4 linked regions of the Homo sapiens genome follow. The protein of the gene in region 1 purifies or fractionates together with the protein of each later gene. This does not show direct contact. Each region holds a gene or a part of one and is shown on either strand. Other genes may lie near its edges.

Region 1 (4,854 bases):
CCTTCTCTTTCCAGCCGCCTGCTGAGCAGACCCCTCGGAGAGCTTTCTGCTCCCTTCCCATCAGCAGCTTGCTTTCTGGGAACCTTTTATCTGCCTTACTCCCCTTTAAACACCTGCGGCATCGTCACATGGCTTGTGATTACCGTTTTATCTCCCTTGCTCCCCTTTAAAACACCTGCGGCATTGTCACTTGGCTTGTGATTACCATTTCGTCTTTAAAGCAGGTTTGTTAACAGTTTTAACACTCGGAGTATTTAAAGCCAGCCAGGTGTGGGCGTGCCTGCACCCAGATGTGGAGGTTTATTTTAAGGCTGTGCCCCAAGGGGACCCAGTTTGGGGGTGGCTGTGCCCGCCCTGGTCCTAGCATAGCCCTGGCCCAGAGCACTGCTCCCACACCCTCGGGCCTCGGAGCTCGGCTGTGTTCATCTACAGGGATCTGTCACCTGTCCCTCCAGGAAAGCTCCTTACGCCTTTGCTCTCCTGAGAATAAAACTTGCTCTGAATCCTCCTCCAAACTTCTCGCCCCTTGGGTCTCAGCTGTTGGCTTTTTGCGACCCCTCCTTGTGGCCTCATGCAGTTGGGTAGCAGCAGCCCCGTCTGTGAGCCTGCTGGGGACAGGCTTCTGTGCCATGTCCTCTCCCAGGCTAGGGGTCCACCCGCCCTCTGAGGGTGTGTGGCTGGGCCCCCGCTCACCAAAAGTCACGTGCATTTGGTGGCAGTGTCCAAGCCTTCTCTCAAGATGGTCAACCCTGCCCCATGCGGGGTCCACGTGTGCCTCAGCATTGAGAGGGTCTGTTCCAGGGATCTGTGTGGGGGTCGCAGGGCACAGCCGCTCCAGCCTCCTGTGCCAAGCCCCTGGGAGCAGGTGTGGGAGCTCCGGGCCAGCCCTGGCACGGGCACCTCCCAGGATGTTCGTAAGACACACGCTTCCTGCCCGCGCATCTTGCCCTGTGGCCTCAGGACAGCCGGTCCGAGGGAGGGCAGGTGCAGCAGCCACGTCCCAGTCGCTGCGGCCTGGCTTCTCCAGGTGCAGCTCGCCCTCCTTGCACCTGCAGCGCGGAAGGCAGAGCCAAAAGGCGCCCCCTGGGCTCCCGGAGCTCTGAGCCACTTCAGGAGTTCGGGCATGTGGGGTTTTGTCTCCGGTTTTAGTCTGGCCATGTTTGTTGGTTCCAATTCCTATGCTCTGTTACCTGAACCTGTTTGATTCTTTTGATTTTCTTCTTTCTGAAAAAGACTTTTCACGGTTTCCTATTCTGCCTTTCTTCCGTATGCCTCTCAACGGGACGAGCAGCTGAAATTAAAAAGATAGTAGCAGGTACGAACCCAAAGGAGTGTGCTGAAGTCAAGAGCCTGTCTGGCGGGCCACAGACCTGAGCGCAGCCCCTCGGTGGCACACCTGCCCCAGGGACAGCCCTGCATGGGGACACGTGTCAGGCCCCAGACCTGCGCACGCACCCAGGCTCAGCCACAGCCCCTCAGGCAGGGTCCCGATGCCCACTCTGCTCCCTTGTGTTACAAATGCCGTGGTCCTTCTCAGCCCTGCTGTGGCCTTGCCTGTCATCAGAGGGCAGCTGGTCTCTGCAAGCGTCTGAGTGCAGGCTGCTTAGGGCACCAGCCAAGGGGGGACGCTGCCTGCACTGCTGCCTCATGGGCCACCTTGACAGATCTGCATGGGTCTCAACAGGTGGGTGGCTTCGTGCCTTCTGCAGCCCAGTCCCCGTGGTCTTGGTGGGCTCTGGCTGTAGGAACAGCCTGTCTCCTCCACGGTGCTTCACATGTGTCCCACGTGGCTTCTGGCTGGACGTGGCATGGCTCCTTCCCCCCTCCCCCTCTTTTTTCCTCCTCTTCCTCTTCCTTCCTCCCTCCTCTTCCCTCCTCCCTCCTTCTCCCTCCTCTTCTCTCCTCCCTCCTCTTCCCTCCTCCCTCCTCTTCCCTCCCTCCTTCTCCCTCCCTCCTTCTCCCTCCTCTTCCCTCCCTCCTTCATCCTCCTCTTCCCTCCCTCCTGCTCCTCTTCCCTCCCTCCTCCTCCTCTTCCCTCCTTCCTCCTCTTCCCTCCTTCCTCCTCTTCCCTCCTTCCTCCTCTTCCCTCCTTCCTCCTCTTCCCTCCTTCCTCCTCCTCCCTCCTCCTCTTCCCCCACCTTCCTTCTCCCTCCTCCTCTTTCTCCCTCCCTCCTCCCCCTCCCCCTCCTCCCTTCTGTCTCCTCTTTCCTCCTCTTCCCAGCACCAGGCCCAGGGCTAGTCCTTTGAGGAGCAAGTGAGGCCATGGTGCCTGCTCTTTCGGAACCCTGCCCTGGAGTATGGGGAGGTGTCACCAGCACATGGGATCTCGTCCTTGTACCATTGACATTCCGTGGTTGAGCCCCGCAGCACCCAGGGCGAGCACGTGGCCCACGGCCGAGGTGGCTGGTCTGCCACCTGCACTTCCTCCTGTGAAAGGAGGTGTGCGGGAGACCTGCTCTGCCCGTCATGGCCTTTCCCTGCAGGCAGGCGTCTGGCCCGGGGTGCTAGCAGGGAGCAGGGGCTGCTGCTTGAGGGCCGGCCCCATGGCCCTGATCTCCTTGGAGCCAGCCCTGTCCCCCACATCCAGGGGTCTGGGCGAGGCCCAGGGCTGCGTTCCTGGGAGAATGCTGACCCTGCACTTCTCTGGCTGGTCATGGTGTCACCACTGGGGAGGCTGGGCCGGCACGTCAGTCTATGCCTGGCATGCAGGGCCGTCCCTGAGATATTTGCTCTCACCACTCACAAAACATCCTTCTCGCTCCTGGATTGAACTTTTATGCCTCACAGCCCTAACCCATCATTTTTCAAAGCTTCCTATAATAATTTGAAAACATCTTGTAAAAATGACATAAGTCACAGCCGCTTGCGGCAAATAACTGGCCAGTGTTGAAGCGAGTCAGACCGGGTGCTCCTGCACCAAGTGTGTGCCAGCCGTAACCCGGGCAGGCCTGTCCTCTGGCCCTTGCTGCAGGCACCAGCTCTTAACACGGGGTGCACTGGGGCTCCCCATCACGCAGGACCTGCCCAGAATTTCCACAGTGGATGGTGTTCAGGAGCGGTGGTTAGGATGGCTGGCGGGGGCCTCACTGACGCTCCAGCTCCCATGCTCCCCTTAGAAGACAGCTTTTGGCCGGGTGCGGTGGCTCATGCCTGTAATCCCAGCACTTTGCGAGGCTGAGGTGTGCGAATCACGAGGTCAGGAGATCAAGACCATCCTGGCTAACACGGTGAAACCCCATCTCTACTAAAAATACAAAACATTAGCCGGGCGCGGTGGCGGGCGTCTGTAGTCCCAGCTACTCGGGAGGCTGAGGCAGAAGAATGGCGTGAACCCGGGAGGCGGAGCTTGCAGTGAGCTGAGATCGCGCCACTGCACTCCAGCCTGGGTGACAGAGTGAGACTCCCGTCTCAAAAAAAAAAAAAAAAAAAAAAAAGACAGCTTTTGTTTGTTTTTAAAATTCTCATCTCGGAGGAAACTTTCTAGAAGTACCAATATTCTTTTCAAAACATAGCTTACAGTTTTTCTTTTCTTTTTTTCTTTTTTGAGACAGGGTCTTGCTCTGTTGCCCAGGCTGGAGTGCAGTGGTGTGATCACGGCTCACTGCAGCCTCGACCTCCTGGGCTCAAATGATCCTCTGGCCTCTGCCCCCCGAGTAGCTGGGAGTACAGACGCCTCTCACCATACCCTGATCATTTTTATTTTTTTGTTTTTTTTGTTTTTGTGGAGATGGGGGTCTTGCTATGTTTCCCAGGCTGGTCTCTAACTCCTGGGCTCAAGCGATCTGCCTGCCTCCGCCTCCCAAATTGCTGGGATTACAGGCGTGAGCCGCCGTGCCCAGGCTTATTTTCTTACGTGCTTGTCCTAGAACAACTGAATGTGTAAAGTGGAAAAAACAAAAACAAAACCCCACCCAGCCCAGATAACCATCTCTGACATTCTGGCACATTCCTTTTGACTGTTGCTCTGGACACTCACTTCCATGGGCAACGAGCAGGCTTGCTGGGGTCCTGCCGGGTGCGCCTGGGGCACAGCCAGTGGGAGAACTGATGCGGCACAGTGGCTGGCTGTGCGGGAGAGGCCATCCCGGGTGGGCTTCCAGGGGCAGTCAGGGCGCAGCCTCTCCCGGGCCCTCAGGCCTGCGTGCATCACTGAGCTGTCCGGGCTTCACGGTCACAGTCATGATGGGTGTCACCAGTGGCCAGTGTTCGGGCACACTCCCTGCAGGTGACCTGTGCGTTGCCTTGCTGTGGGCCGCGCCGTCCCTGGCCCAGCACGGTGCATGAGCAGCCCGGGCACTCTGACTGTGTGCTTTCCAAACCCAGAAGCTGGCAGGGCGGAGATGCTGGACCACGCCGTCCTGCTTCAGGTGATCAAAGAACAGCAGGTGCAGCAAAAGCGCTTGCTGGACCAGCAGGAGAAGCTGCTGGCGGTGATCGAGGAGCAGCACAAGGAGATCCACCAGCAGAGGCAGGAGGACGAGGAGGATAAACCCAGGCAGGGTAGGCCGGGCTGGCGGATGGAGTGGGGTGGGGCCAGGCAGGGGGTCTCCTGCTGTCCTCATGCGGCTGGGTCTGAGGCTCGGTGGCCTCTAGACCTGAGCGTGAGTCTGGTTTTGGTTCCCAATGCTGTTGTTGCTGGTTCTTCTGAGCCCCTCCACTGGCAGCCTGTGTACAGTGCTGTGGCTAAATTGATGACCGACTTCATTTGCAGTGGAGGTGCATCAAGAGCCCGGGGCAGCGGTGCCCAGAGGCCAGGAGGCCCCTGAAGGCAAGGCCAGGGAGACGGTGGAGAATCTGCCTCCCCTGCCTTTGGACCCTGTCCTCAGAGCTCCTGGGGGCCGCCCTGCTCCATCC
Region 2 (4,455 bases), on another chromosome or scaffold:
GTTTAAGAAGGCAGAGTGTCTTAGTTCTTTTTTTTTTTTTAATCCCCTATTCTGAGAAGCAGTCTTAGTTCATTTTTGCTGCTATAACAGAATGCCTGAGACTGGGTGATTTATAATGAACGGAGATTTACTGGCTCACAGTTCTGGAGGCTGGGTGGGAGGTCCAACATTGAGAAGCCAGCACCTGGTGAGGGCCTTCTTGCTATGTCCACACATGGCAGAAAGCAAGGGTGGGGAGAAAAAGAGGGAGAGAAAGGGAAAGCACATGGGGGGCTGAACTTTCCCTCTTAGAATGGCACCAATCCCACTCAAGAGTGGAGTTGTTATGGCCCAATCACCTCTTAAAGGCCCCATCTCTTAATACTGTTTCAGTGGCAGTTAAATTTCAGCATGAGTTTTGGAGGGGACAAGCATTCAAACCATAGCACAGGGTAAATCCCATCTCCATTACTCTATCTTGGATGGAAGCAGTTCTTCTTCTGAGCCATATTTAAAGTAGGAAGAAATTTAATAGAAAACAAGTATTTGTTTTGTTTTGTTTTGTTTTTTTTTGAGACGGAGTCTTGCTCTGTCGCCAGGCTGGAGTGCAGTGGCGCGATCTTGGCTCACTGCATCCTCCACCTCCTGGGTTCAAGAGATTCTCCTCCTGCCTCAGCCTCCCCAGTAGCTGGGACTACAGGCGCCCACCACCATGCCCGGCTAAATTTTTTTGTATTTTTAGTAGAGTCAGGATTTCACCATGTTGGTCAAGCTGGTCTCGAACTCCTGACCTTGTGATCCGACGCCTCGGCCTCCCAAAGTGCTGAGATTACAACATGAGCCACCAGGCCCAGCCAGTATTTGTTCTTTATAAAATTCAGGTTTTGGAATATGGTGTTTAAACCACTTAGGTGTTGTCAGTGTGTAAATTATATGTGATGCCTGCATTGGTCTCTCTGTAGACCTGGTGGTCAAATAAGAGTAAGGACCTATGATATTTCTGTACCACTCTTTTAGAGTAAAACATATTTCACGTTTTTATCGTATTTTATTTGGCCCTCAGTAAAACTGGAGCAGGTATATCCATTTTTACTGTTGTGGAAACTGTTGTGGAAAAGAATGGTTAGTTCTTTTTTTTTTTTTTTTTTTTTTTTTTTTTTTTTTTGAGACGGAGTTCCGCTCTTGTTTCCAGCTCTCCACGCTGGAGTGCAATGGAGCGATCCCAGCTCACTACAACCTCCGCCTCCCAGGTTCAAGCAATGCTCCTGCCTCAGCCTCCTGAGTAGCTGGGATTACAGGCATGAGCCACCACGCCCGGCTAATTTGGTATTTTTAGTAGAGATGGGGTTTCTCCATGTTGGTCAGGCTGGTCTTAAACTCTCAGCCGCAGGTGATCCACCCACCTCGGCCTCCCAAAGTGCTGGGATTACAGGCGTGAGCCACTGCGCCCGGCCTAGAACAGTTCTTGCTAGCCTCTCCTAACAGCTTCAGAAGAATCTAAAGGATTTTTTTTCCTTTTCTTTGTATCATTGATTTATGGTTACTCCTATGTCTGGCTTTTTCTTTAGTCTTTTTAGTAAAATAAGCATTCTTGAATTTCACATTTCTACCCCTGGGCTATACCTATCCGTAAAATACAAAATTCAAATACTGCATAGTCTACCGCTGTCTATCTTAGTAACCTTTAGAAAGCCATTTGTTGCTGTGTACTTTACTTTCCTCACCAATGAATATTCTGGTTTAATGATGGCCCTGGAGTTATTAATATTTTGAGATTATAAGTGTAGAATTGCATCTACTAGTGAATTCTGAATTCGGATTGATTAATTTATATATACAAACTTTTAGAGTGGCAACACAGTGGAAGAGAATTCATTTTTATGTTAAGAATCTTAATGGTGCCTCCTCATAAAAGCCAAGAATCCAGTGGTTCTTTTTTTTTTTTTTTCCCTAAACAATGCCTAAACTCTTTATTTAACCAACCAGTATTTCTGGTTTTCTTCCTGATGCAGGATTTTAAAACCTTAGAAGTCTATAAATACTGCATTCAGACTTTCCACATCAAGAGAAAGGGGCCCAGGGCAGAAGATGTCAGGCCCCAGGCTGTTTTGGGGTGGGAAAAGTGGCAAAGATTTCTCAACAGTCTGTTTCAGTTTTCTAACTTAATTGAAATGCCTTTAAGCTCTGCTTCATCCCCAAACTTTCCCCTATGGCGTCTATGATAGAAAAACACTCCTCTCTCATATACGCCCCACCACTGGGGAGCCAGGGGGAAGGGAATGGGCATTACACAGGCAAGCCAAACTTTTTATTCAGCCAGAAAATGGAAATCCAATGGTTCTTTATCAAGCCTAATGTAAGATAATTGATTAAAAGAAAAATACAAAAAATCCTTAAAAACATCACCTACTTTTTTCCCACAGAAACTATGAAAATTATTTTGTCAAAGCACAGAAAGTGAGACGCCTCATTGCTAATGACTTTGTAAATGCTTTTAACTCTGGAGTAGATGTCTTGCTAACTCCCACCACCTTGAGTGAGGCAGTACCATACTTGGAGTTCATCAAAGAGGACAACAGAACCCGAAGTGCCCAGGATGATATTTTTACACAAGCTGTAAATATGGCAGGTGAGGATTCCTCAGGAACATTCTGATTTTCTTCAAATTCTTAGGCAGGTACCCTGGTCTTCAACTTAAGATTCTAGCTAGATGGTTTCCGAAAAGCAAAAGTCTATCCTTTTGGAATGCTTAGGAGTGAGTGTGTGTGTACATGTATTAGTCTGTTCTCACACTGCTATAAAGAAATACCTGAGACTGGATAATTTAATTTAAAAAAGAGGTTTAATTGGCTCACAGTTCTGCGGGCTGTACAGGAAGCTGAGCAGCTTCCACTTCTGCGAATGCCTCAGGAAACTTAAATTCACAGTGGAAGGTGAAGGAGAAGTAGCCATGTCTTACATGGCCCAGCCCAAGCAAGAGAGAAAGGGGGAAGGTGCTACACACTTTTAAAACAACCAGGTCTTGTGATAACTCACTCACTATCACGAGAACAGCACCAAGGGGAATGGTGTTAAACCGTTTATGAGAAACCGTCCCCATGATCCAGTTGCCTTCCACTAGGCCCCACCTTCAACATTGGGGATTACAATTCAACATGAGATTTGTGTGGGGAGACAGATCCAAACCATATCCGTACACTTGCATGCACTCTCACCACACACACACAAACACAACACACTTAGTAGTTTTTTTTAACTTTTATTTTGAAAAATTTTAAACCCACAGAAAAGCTGAAAAAGTGGTATAATGAATGCTGATATGCCCTTCACCTGGATGTAATCTTGTTAACATTATATTTGCTTTGCCCTTCTCTTCCTCTTTCTACACACCCACACTCACCACACAAACAACTTTGTTTTTACCTGAATCATTTGAAAGTTTCAGATGTCATGACACTTCACCCCTAAATTCTTTTGTACAAATCTTATAAGGATAAATTTTCCTACAGAACCACAATTCCATTGTCATACCTAAGAAAACTAACATGATTGAAGAATAATTTAAATATGGTTTATATTCAAATTTTCTCAGTTCTACCAAAAGTGTCTTTTATAAGTTGTCTTTCCTCCTGATATATTACATTGGTTTATGGTATCTTTTTAAAATCTAGAACAATCACCCCACCTCTCTTTTTTCTTTAAAACCACATCAGGCTATGCTATAATTTTTGTTTCAATCATCAAACATAATGTAGAAAACTTAAGAGGAAAAGGAAAGTCTATTACATTTACCTATACTTTTGCTTACTGTGTTCATTCTTCCTTCCTGAAGTACCAAGATTCTTTATTTTGTCACTTCTGTTTAGAGAAATTTCTTTAGCCTTTCTTTTAGGGTAGGTCTGCTGATGAAAAATTATCATAGCTTTCCTTTTGAGAATGTGTTGATTTCCCTTTGATTTTTAAAGGTTATTTTTGCTGGATGTAGAACTCTGGTTCAACAGTTCTTATCTTTAGCACTTAAAAAATGTTAAGAGCCCAGTCCACTTGTGCTGTAAGATGTCCCATCCATAATCAGGATTTGTCAGATTGCTTCCTCATGATTGGGTTGAGTTAAACATTTTTGGTAGAAGTACTACATAATCTTCATGTCAGGAAACAGTTAATATCAGTTTGTCTCACTTTTGGAAACCAAGTTGATCACTTCGCTAAGGAAGTAACTGCTAGATGTTTCCTTATAAAAAGGTACATTTTTCCTTTTATCATTTTTTTAAGCAATTTCTGGAGTAATATTTTGAGACCATGTGAATATCCTATTTTCCAATTATCTTGAACCCAGTTTTAGCATTCATTGATCATCCTTGAAATATTAGCTAGAGAATTACAAAATTCTGGCTTTACTAAATCTGTCATTCCTTCTACATTTATTAGCTAGCAGTATTCTCTAAAGAAGAGCCTTCCTTTTTTTCTTTAATTCAA
Region 3 (4,455 bases), on another chromosome or scaffold:
TGGGCAATCCCAGCAGCCATCCTTCAACCACTCATGGACTGCTGAGTGTTCTAACTGTGTTCAAATAAGACAATTGCAAATCTGTAACCAATCCAGCCACTGTGTACCTCACTTCCGATTTGTCACTTCCCTTCATTTGTCTATAAATTTGTTATGACCACAAGGCATCCCTGGAGTCTCTCCAAATCTGCTGTGGTTCTGGGGGCTGCCCAATTTGCTGCTCAATTAAACTCCTTTAAATTTAATTCAGATGAAGTTTTCCTTTTACCATAGCTTTAGCACTGGTCCACTTTCTAGACCCATTTCTGACCAGCTTCTAAGACACTTTCAGTTGTAAGTTTTATTAATACCTAAAACGTGTCTAAAACAGAATTACCTTTCTTCTGTCACCCTAAATTACTTTTTCTCCAGATGTCCCAATCTTTGCCTATCACTAAGCTATTTCATTTAGAAAATGTGTAGTCCATCTAATTCCTCCATTTCAAGATAATTCCCACATCTTCTCAAGTCTTCTTTTATTAACATGTCTTCCTTTCTGATCATCGGTGCTATCACCCTCATTGAGGGCCTTGTTACTCTAAAAGTGGACTTGTGAAATGGTCTAAGTGGGATGTGGCTTCAGAGTCTCACGTGATGAGTTCCTTTTGTGAGCTGCTGACTGTTTTATCTTGTAAACTCCTTTGCAAACAGCACCTTAAAATCTCAATGGCTGCTATTGAAATCTTTCAACAAAAATCTTTGAAACTGTAGATCAATTTCTATAGCCAACAAACTGAGTATGGCAAATAGTTTTAGAGAGAAAGTTCCCTACCAGGTTATAAGGAGAAAGGCCACCTTTCCCCTCCTTCATGGAGTACACTGTTACACAGGTCTACATCCGTGGTTCTCAGTCCAGTAATTTTGCCCCCACGGGACATTTGGCCATGGATGGAGACATTTTGGGTTGTCATAGCTCAGGCAAGCTATTGGCCTCTTATGAGTAGAGGCCAGGGATACTGCTTAGCATCCTACAAAACACAGAAAACCTGGTCTAGCCCTTACAGAGAATGAGTCAAGATAATGTGGGCCTTCTTAGACAAGGTGGCATGAGGAACAACAACAACAAAAACGACAATGTAGGCCCAAGACAGGGCAAGTGTGTGAGGATCCCGAGAGAAAGGAGAAAGACTCTTTGATGGTTGCCAGGGAGAGTGTCTTTATGGTTACTTAGTCTTCCTAGCACCAGAGAGAGATCAACGGAAGACAAAGATATATTTGCATGTGCAAAGTAACTGCCATTTCTGTGTTGAGTAGTAAACATTATAAATTCTTGTGTTTTGGTAAATAAAAGGGCTCTTCTCCAGGACTGTGGGCAACCCTGTCTGGGCAACACCCATGTAGGAACTGGCAGAAGAAATCCAGGCTTGCTTCACTCTGTGATTCTTTCTAGCTTCCTAGATTGGAGAAGCCAAAACTGCTTGGCAGCTATCAGCTCCTCACTGCTTTGAGATCAAGGATAAACTTAACCCTTAGGCAGTTACCATCTGAACCCATTCCACCCTTCTGCAAAACTGTTACATCACCTATAGTGGCATATTATTTCTTAAACAAGCTGAGCATATTCCTACCTCTACACCTTTGCGTGCACATTTCCTTGCCCTGGAATCCGCACCCCTCTGCTGCTTTACCTAAAACTGCTCCTTTGAATGGTCACTTGAAGCCCCATCTCCTATAAGCATATCTGCCCATATTATTTATTTAGCATTAGCAACATGCTATCTTCTACTGTTCTAAAATTCATTTTTAAAACAGATACCCTACCTCCCCAATTAAAAATGTAATTTTTTTTGATGTCAAGAACCCTGTTGTAAACCTACAGATCCCCAAAACTTACCTGTGTACTTTGCGTAAGGCAATGATACCCTAAAACATCCTATCAAAGTTATTGGTAATGTGTTCTGCCTACATTAATAGCTAGTGTTGTCCAGGCACAGTGGCTCATGCCTGCAATCCCAGCACTTTGGGAGGCCAAGGCGGGAGGATCACTTGAGTCCAGGATTTTGAAGCTTCAGTGAGCCATGATCTGTATCACTGCACTCCAGCCTGGGTGACAGAACAAGATCCTGTCTCTAAAAAACTAACTTAATTAATTAATTTTAAAAATAGCTAATGTTTACTGATTATTTATAATGAGTCAGCTGCTCTAAGTACTTAAGAACATTTATTATGAGTCAGCTGTTCCAAGTTCTCAGGTTAAGAGATGTGTCATTCCAAAGAGAAAGGCAAGAGGGTGAGAGAAGGTGAGAGTGAGAAATGAGGGGAGAGAAAGAGAGAGCAAGAGAAGGCCAAAGTTGTCCTTTAATGAGGAACTCATTCTCTCAAAAACAGCATTAATAATTTACGAGGCCAGTTCCCCTATTTAGAGGTGACAGCATGCTGGCAGCCCTCGCTTGCTCTCGGTGCCTCGCCTCCTCGGCCTCGGCGCCCATTCTGGCCACGCTTGAGGAGCCCTTCAGCCCACCGCTGCACCGTGGGAGCCCTTCTCTAGGCTGGCCAAGGCTGGAGCCAGCTCCCTCGGCTTGCGGGGAGGTGTGGAGGGAGAGGCATGGGCGGGAACCAGGGCTGCGTGGCGCTTGTGGGCCAGCTAGAGTTCCGGGTGGGCGTGGGCTTGGCAGGCCCTGCACTCGGAGCGGCCGGCAGGCCCTGCGGCCCCGGGCAGTGAGGGGCTTAGCACCCAGGCCAGCAGCTGTGGAGGGTGCGCCGGGTCCCCCAGCAGTGCTGGCCCACCGGCGCCGCGCTCGATTTCTAGCCAGGCCTTAGCTGCCTCTCCGCGGGGCAGGCCCCGGGACCTGCAGCCCACCATGCCTGAGTCTCCCCGCCACCGCCAGTGGGCTCCTGCACGGCCTGAGCCTCCCCGACGAGCGCCACCCCCTGCTCCACTGCACCCAGTCCCATCAACCGCCCAAGGGCTGAGGAGTGCAGGCACGAGGCGCGAGACTGGCAGGCAGCTCCACCTGCGGCACTGGTGCAAGATCCACTGGGTGAGGCCAGCTGGGCTCCTGAGTCTAGTGGGGACTTGGAGAACCTTTGTGTCTAGCTAAGGGATTGTGAGTGCACCAATCAGCACTCAGTGTCTAGCTCAAGGTTTGTGAACACACCAATCAGCACCCTGTGTCTAGCTCAGGGTTTGTGGATGCACCAATCGGTACTCTGTATCTAGCTAATCTGGTGGTGACTTGAAGAATCTTTATGTCTAGCTAAGGGATTGTAAATACACCAATCAGCACTCTGTATCAAGCTCAGGGTTTGTGGATGCACCAATCGGTACTCTGTATCTAGCTAATCTGGTGGGGACTTGAAGAATCTTTATGTCTAGCTAAGTGATTGTAAATACACCAATCAGCACTCTGTATCAAGCTCAAGGTTTGTAAATGCACCAATCCGCACTCTGTGTCTAGTTCAGGGTTTGTAAATACACCAATCAGCACTCTGTATCTAGCTAATCTAGTGGGGAGGTGGAGAACTTTTGTGTCTAGCTCAGGGATTGTAAATGCACCAATCAGCACCCTGTCAAAACAGACCAATCCAATCAGCTGTCTGTAAAACAGACCAATCAGGCTGCCGAGCCAGCAGTGGCAATCCAATCGGGTCCCCTTCCACACTGTGGAAGCTTTGTTCTTTAGCTCTTTGCAATAAATCTTGCCGCTGCTCAATCTTTGAGTCCACACTGCCTTTATGAGCTGTAACACTCACCGCGAAGGTCTGCAGCTTCACTCCTGAAGCCAGCGAGGCCACAAGCCCACCGGGAGGAGCGAACAACTCCAGATGTGCCGCCTTAAGAGCTGTAACACTCACCGTGAAGGTCTGCAGCTTCACTCCTGAGCCGGTGACACCACAAACCCACCAGAAGGAAGAAACTCCGAACACATCCGAACATCAGAAGGAACAAACTCCAGACACACCGCCTTTAAGAACTGTAGCACTCACCGCGAGGGTCCGTGGCTTCATTCTTGAAGTCAGTGAGACCAAGAACCCACCAATTCTGGACACACTATGACCCAAACACTTCCCATTAGGCCCCACCACTCAAAACCTCCGCACTGGGGATCAAGCTTCCAACACATGAATTTTGGGGGACACATTCAAACCATTTGTGTTCTCTCTACCTGGATGCCAAATATATGTCCAGAAAAAATACTTCTGGTTTTGTTGAAGAGCAAAAAGTTAAACAACAAGAATTATATGTATTTTGGCAGCTGCTGTCTGGCAGATGTCCAGAGAATTAACTGAACAAGAATTCACGTCAAGGATATTTGTCAAGAATCACCTCTTGGCTGGGTGCAATGGCTCATGCCTGTAATCCCAGCATTTTGGAGGGTGAGGTGGGAGGATCGCTTGAGGCCAGGAGTTCCAGACCAGCCTGGCCAACACAGTGAGACCTCATCTCTACAAAACACTTTAAAAATTAGCCAGGTG
Region 4 (4,455 bases), on another chromosome or scaffold:
ACCTCCCAGGTTCAAGTGATTCTCCTGCCTCAGCCTCCCGAGTTGCTGGGATTACAGGCATGCGACACCACGCCCGGGTAATTTTGTATTTTTAATAGAGACAGGGTTTCTCCATGTTGGTTAGGCTGGTGTCGAACTCCTGACCCCAGGTGATCCACCCGCGTCGGCCTCCCAAAGTGCTGGGATTACAGGCATGAGCCACCGTGCTGCGCTTGGGTGATTTATTTTTAAGTATTTTGTAGAGTTGAGGTCCCATCTTGTTTCCCAGGCTGGTTTCAAGCTCCCGTGCTTAGGTGATTACCCCTCCTCAGCCTCCCAAAGCACTGGGATTACAGATGTGAGCCACTATGCCAGGCATAATTTTATTCTTATCTGAATCCTGTGTATATTTATTTTTCAGTTAATCCAGAACTGTATAGGGAGAGGGATATATTTACTGTTGAACTTAGTGATTAATTGGATGCAGGGGTGAAGATGATAAGCAAAGAAAAACTGCTGGCCAGGCACGGTGGCTCACGCCTGTAATCCCAGCACTTTGGGAGGCCGATGCGGGAGGATTGCCTGAGCTCAGGAGTTCACGACCAGCCTGGACAACAAGGTGAAACCCCGTCTCTACTAAAATACAAAAAAATTAGCCGGGCCTGGCAGCGTGTGCCTGTAGTCCCAGTTACTTGGGAGGCCGAGGCAGGAGAACTGCTTGAACCTGGGAGGCAGAGGTTGCAGTGAGCCGAGATCGCGCCACTGCACTCCAGCCTGGGCGACAGAGTGAGACTCCGTCTCAAAAAAGAAAAAAAAGAAAAGAAAGAAAAAAGAGAAAAAAACTGCTAAGAATGATTCTTGAGTTTTAGGCTTTAATATTGATGGGAGCAGGAGGAAGTGAGACAGTTCTGAGGACCCCTGTTTGATACTTTAATTTTGAGGTGTCTATTTTTTTTTTTGAGACGGAGTCTCGCTCTGTCACCCAGGCTGGAGTGCAGTGGCGCGATCTCGGCTCACTGCAAGCTCCACCTTCTGGGTTTACACCATTCTCCTGCCTCAGCCTCCCGAGTAGCTGGGACTACAGGCGCCTGCCACTGCACCCAGCTAATTTTTTGTATTTTTAGTAGGGACAGGGTTTCACCGTGGTCTCGATCTCCTGACCTCGTGATCCGCCCGCCTCGGCCTCCCAAAGCGCTGGGATTACAGGCTTGAGCCACCGCGCCCGGACTTTTTTTGCATTTTTAGTAGAGATGCGGTTTCTCCGCATGTTGGTCAGGCTGGTCTCAAACTCCAGACCCTCAGGTAATCCACCCACCTCGGCCTCCCAAAGTGTTGGGATTACAGGTGTGAGCCATTGGGCCCAGCCTGAGGTGTCTATTTAAGATACCAAGTAGATAGTTAAAGAATGCAGTAGGAAAAACCAGGCTGCAGTTGATAATTTTAGTGCTGAAGATATAAACCATCAGACTAGGAATTTGATTAATAGCAAGGGAAGTCTTGTTGCCCATTGCAGAGTTGTACCTTCTATGTCCTTTCCTTCCATGACGCAGGTCAGGCTTGGATGATACTGTTGATACTCTCGTAACTTGGACAGCCTCTTGACAGTTTTGCTATACATAAAATTGTGAGGCACTGGGAAAGAGAAATCGGAGTTAGTTCTCATTCTTTTAAGTGGATCTATGTTGTACTATACAATCTTATGCTGTGGACAGGCACAGTGACTCACGCCTGTAATCTCAGCACTTTAGGAGGCCGAGGTGGGAGGACCATTTGAGGTCGGGAGTTAGAGACCAGCCTGGCTAACATGGTGAAACCCCGTCTCCACCAAAAATATAAAAATTATCCAGGTGGCCAGGCACAGTGGCTCACACCTGTAATCCCAGCGCTTTGGGAGGCCGAGGCTGGTTGGATCACTTGAGGTCAGGAGTTTGACCAACATGGTGAAACCCCGTCTCTACTAAAAATACAAAAATTAGCTGGGTGTGGTGGCGGGCACCTATAATCCGAGCTACTTGGGAGGCTGAGGCAAGAGAATTGCTAGAACCCAGGAAGCAGAGGTTGCAGTGAGCCGAGACCGCGCCATTGCACTCCAGCCTGGACGACAGAGCAAGACTGTGTCTCAAAAAAACAATTAGCCAAGGGTGGTGGCAGGCGCCTGTAATTCCAGTTACTCAAGAGGCTGAGGCAGGAAAATCACTTGAACTTGGAAGACAGAGGTTGCAGTGAGCCGAGATCGTGCCATTGCACTCCAGCCTGGGTGACAAGAGTGCAACTCCATCTCAAAAAAATAAATAAATAAATAAATAAAAATAAAGAATCTTATGACTTTACGGCTGGGCATGGTGGCTCACACCTGTAATCCCAGTACTTTGGGAGGCCAAGGCGGGTGGATCACCTGAGGTCAGGAGTTCAAGCCCAGCCCAGCCAACATGGTGAAACCCTGTTTCTACTAAAAATACAAAAATTAGGTGGGCATGGTGGCACATGCCTGTAATCCCAGCTACAGGAGGCTGAGGCAGGAGAATCACTTGAACCTGGGAGGTGGAGGTTGCAGTGAGCAGAGACCGTGCCATTGCACTCTAGCCTGGGCAATAGAGCCAGACTTTGTCTCGAAAAAAAAAAAAAAAAGCCTGGGCACAGTGGCTCATGCTTGTAATCCCCAGCACTTTGGGAGGCCGAGGTGGGTGGATCATGAGGTCAGGAGTTTGAGACCAGCCTGACCGACATGGTGAAACCCCATCTCTACTAAAAATACAAAAATTAGCCAGGCGTGGTGACACGTGTCTATTAATCCCAGCTACTCAGGAGGCTGAGGCAGGAGAATCACTTCGACCTGGGAGGCGAAGGTTGCAGTGAGCCGAGATCGCACCACTGCACTCCAGCCTGGCAACAGAACGAGACTCCATCTCAAAAATAAATAAATAAATAAATAAATAAATAAATAAATAAATAAATAAACGTTATGCTCTTACAAAGTCTGCAACATCTCTCTCTTGCCCATCCCATTTCAAGCCGTACTGTTTTTTTCTCATGCTTCTTTCTGTGCAGGTCCAGTAAAAAATATGTTCTTAACCCTATCTTATATTCATTTATCTTGTTTGTTTATAAGTTTACATACGTATATATCTTGATTTCCCCCTACAATAACATACAGTCTAGTGAAGGAATTTCATTGTATTCACGCTATATACCCAGCACCTAGAAAAGTGGCCTGCTCATAGTAGGTGTTCAGTAAGCATTTGTTGACTTACTAGGTAACAGCATCTAATTCTATTAATCCTGAAATATCACAGGTCTTTTGGTTTTTCCATAGTTTTCTGATGGCTGTAACTGTAAGTAAACCATTTGGGTCAAATTAAATATAAGGTAAAACCTAACCCTTTGGAGACATTTAGACATCTTTTGCTAAAAACGGTCTCTTTTGTTCACTGGCAGGCACATAGAGCAAGATCTGACTTTTCACTTATCCTCACTTAATTCTTTTTTTTTTTTTTTCTTTTTTTGAGATGGAGTCTTGCTCTGTCGCCCAGGCTGGAGTGCAGTGGCGCGATCTTGGCTCACTGCAAGCTCCGCCTCCTGGGTTCATGCCATTCTCCTGCCTCAGCCTCCTGAGTAGCTGGCACTACAGGCGCCCGCCACCGCGCCCGGCTAATTTTTTTTGTATTTTTTTTTTAGTAGAGACAGGGTTTCACCATGGTCTCGATCTCCTGACCTCGTGATCCGTCCGCCTCGGCCTCCCAAAGTGAGCCACCACGCCCGGCCTTAATTCTTTATTCATGTATTTCATCATTCTGATTTTGAGACTAAACCTAGTCAAACTCTTCTATTTTCTCTGAATTTATGTCTTTAAGTTCTTGCATGTCTTCTTTCCTCTCAGATAATTAAATAACCATCTTGTATTAGTCCGTTTTTGCATTGCTATAAAGGAATACCTGAGACTTGGTATTTATAAAGAAAAGACATTTTACTGGCTCACAGTTCTGCAGACTGTACAGTAAGTATGGTGCCAGCATCTGCTCACCTTCTGGTGAGGCCTCAGGAAGCTTTCAGTCATAGTGGAAGGCAAAGCGGGAGCTGGCATATCACATGGCAAGAGAGGGTGCAAGAGAGAGTGAGGGGGAGGGGCTGATCTCACCCCAACTCAGAGCAAGAACTCACTTATTCCTTCGAGGAGGGTGCCAAGCCATTCATGAGGGATCCATCTGCATCACTCAAAACCTCCTGCCATGCCCCACCTCCAACAGTGGGGATTTCAAATTTCAAGTGATAGTTGTCCCTTCCAAATTTCAAATTTTCAACATGAGACTTGGAAGGGACAACTATCCCAACCATATCACATCTTTAAGCCCTTTTGTCTCTTGCCCTTTGTTATAAAAAGCAAAGCAAAGTTTAACTTTAGTAATAATTCTGCCTCTTGGGGTTACATTGAAAACTGTGAGATGTATTTACAACTAGAAAGAAACTGAAGACTGTATC

The links. The genes of interacting proteins can lie anywhere in the genome.
Region 2: the proteins of SLC38A10 (region 1) and QRSL1 purify together in Homo sapiens (co-immunoprecipitation; one large-scale study listed by IntAct). This does not show direct contact.
Region 3: the proteins of SLC38A10 (region 1) and ACADSB purify together in Homo sapiens (affinity purification with mass spectrometry; one large-scale study listed by BioGRID and IntAct). This does not show direct contact.
Region 4: the proteins of SLC38A10 (region 1) and CLEC4C purify together in Homo sapiens (co-immunoprecipitation; one large-scale study listed by IntAct). This does not show direct contact.

What each region holds. Positions count from the first base shown.
Region 1 is NC_000017.11:81,246,531-81,251,384, reverse strand, and holds part of SLC38A10 (solute carrier family 38 member 10), read left to right. Parts: coding exon of another isoform or gene 1-170; exon of another isoform or gene 171-515; intron 516-1,291; coding exon of another isoform or gene 1,292-1,315; intron 1,316-4,323; coding exon 4,324-4,500; intron 4,501-4,711; coding exon 4,712-4,854. UniProt on the Homo sapiens protein: Facilitates bidirectional transport of amino acids. May act as a glutamate sensor that regulates glutamate-glutamine cycle and mTOR signaling in the brain. The transport mechanism remains to be elucidated.
Region 2 is NC_000006.12:106,660,578-106,665,032, forward strand, and holds part of QRSL1 (glutamyl-tRNA(Gln) amidotransferase subunit A, mitochondrial), read left to right. Parts: intron 1-2,402; coding exon 2,403-2,608; intron 2,609-4,455. UniProt on the Homo sapiens protein: Allows the formation of correctly charged Gln-tRNA(Gln) through the transamidation of misacylated Glu-tRNA(Gln) in the mitochondria. The reaction takes place in the presence of glutamine and ATP through an activated gamma-phospho-Glu-tRNA(Gln).
Region 3 is NC_000010.11:123,012,006-123,016,460, reverse strand, and holds part of ACADSB (short/branched chain specific acyl-CoA dehydrogenase, mitochondrial isoform 1 precursor), read right to left. Parts: intron 1-4,455. UniProt on the Homo sapiens protein: Short and branched chain specific acyl-CoA dehydrogenase that catalyzes the removal of one hydrogen from C-2 and C-3 of the fatty acyl-CoA thioester, resulting in the formation of trans-2-enoyl-CoA.
Region 4 is NC_000012.12:7,739,921-7,744,375, forward strand, and holds part of CLEC4C (C-type lectin domain family 4 member C), read right to left. Parts: intron 1,612-4,455; coding exon 1,501-1,611; intron 1-1,500. UniProt on the Homo sapiens protein: Lectin-type cell surface receptor which may play a role in antigen capturing by dendritic cells. Specifically recognizes non-sialylated galactose-terminated biantennary glycans containing the trisaccharide epitope Gal(beta1-3/4)GlcNAc(beta1-2)Man.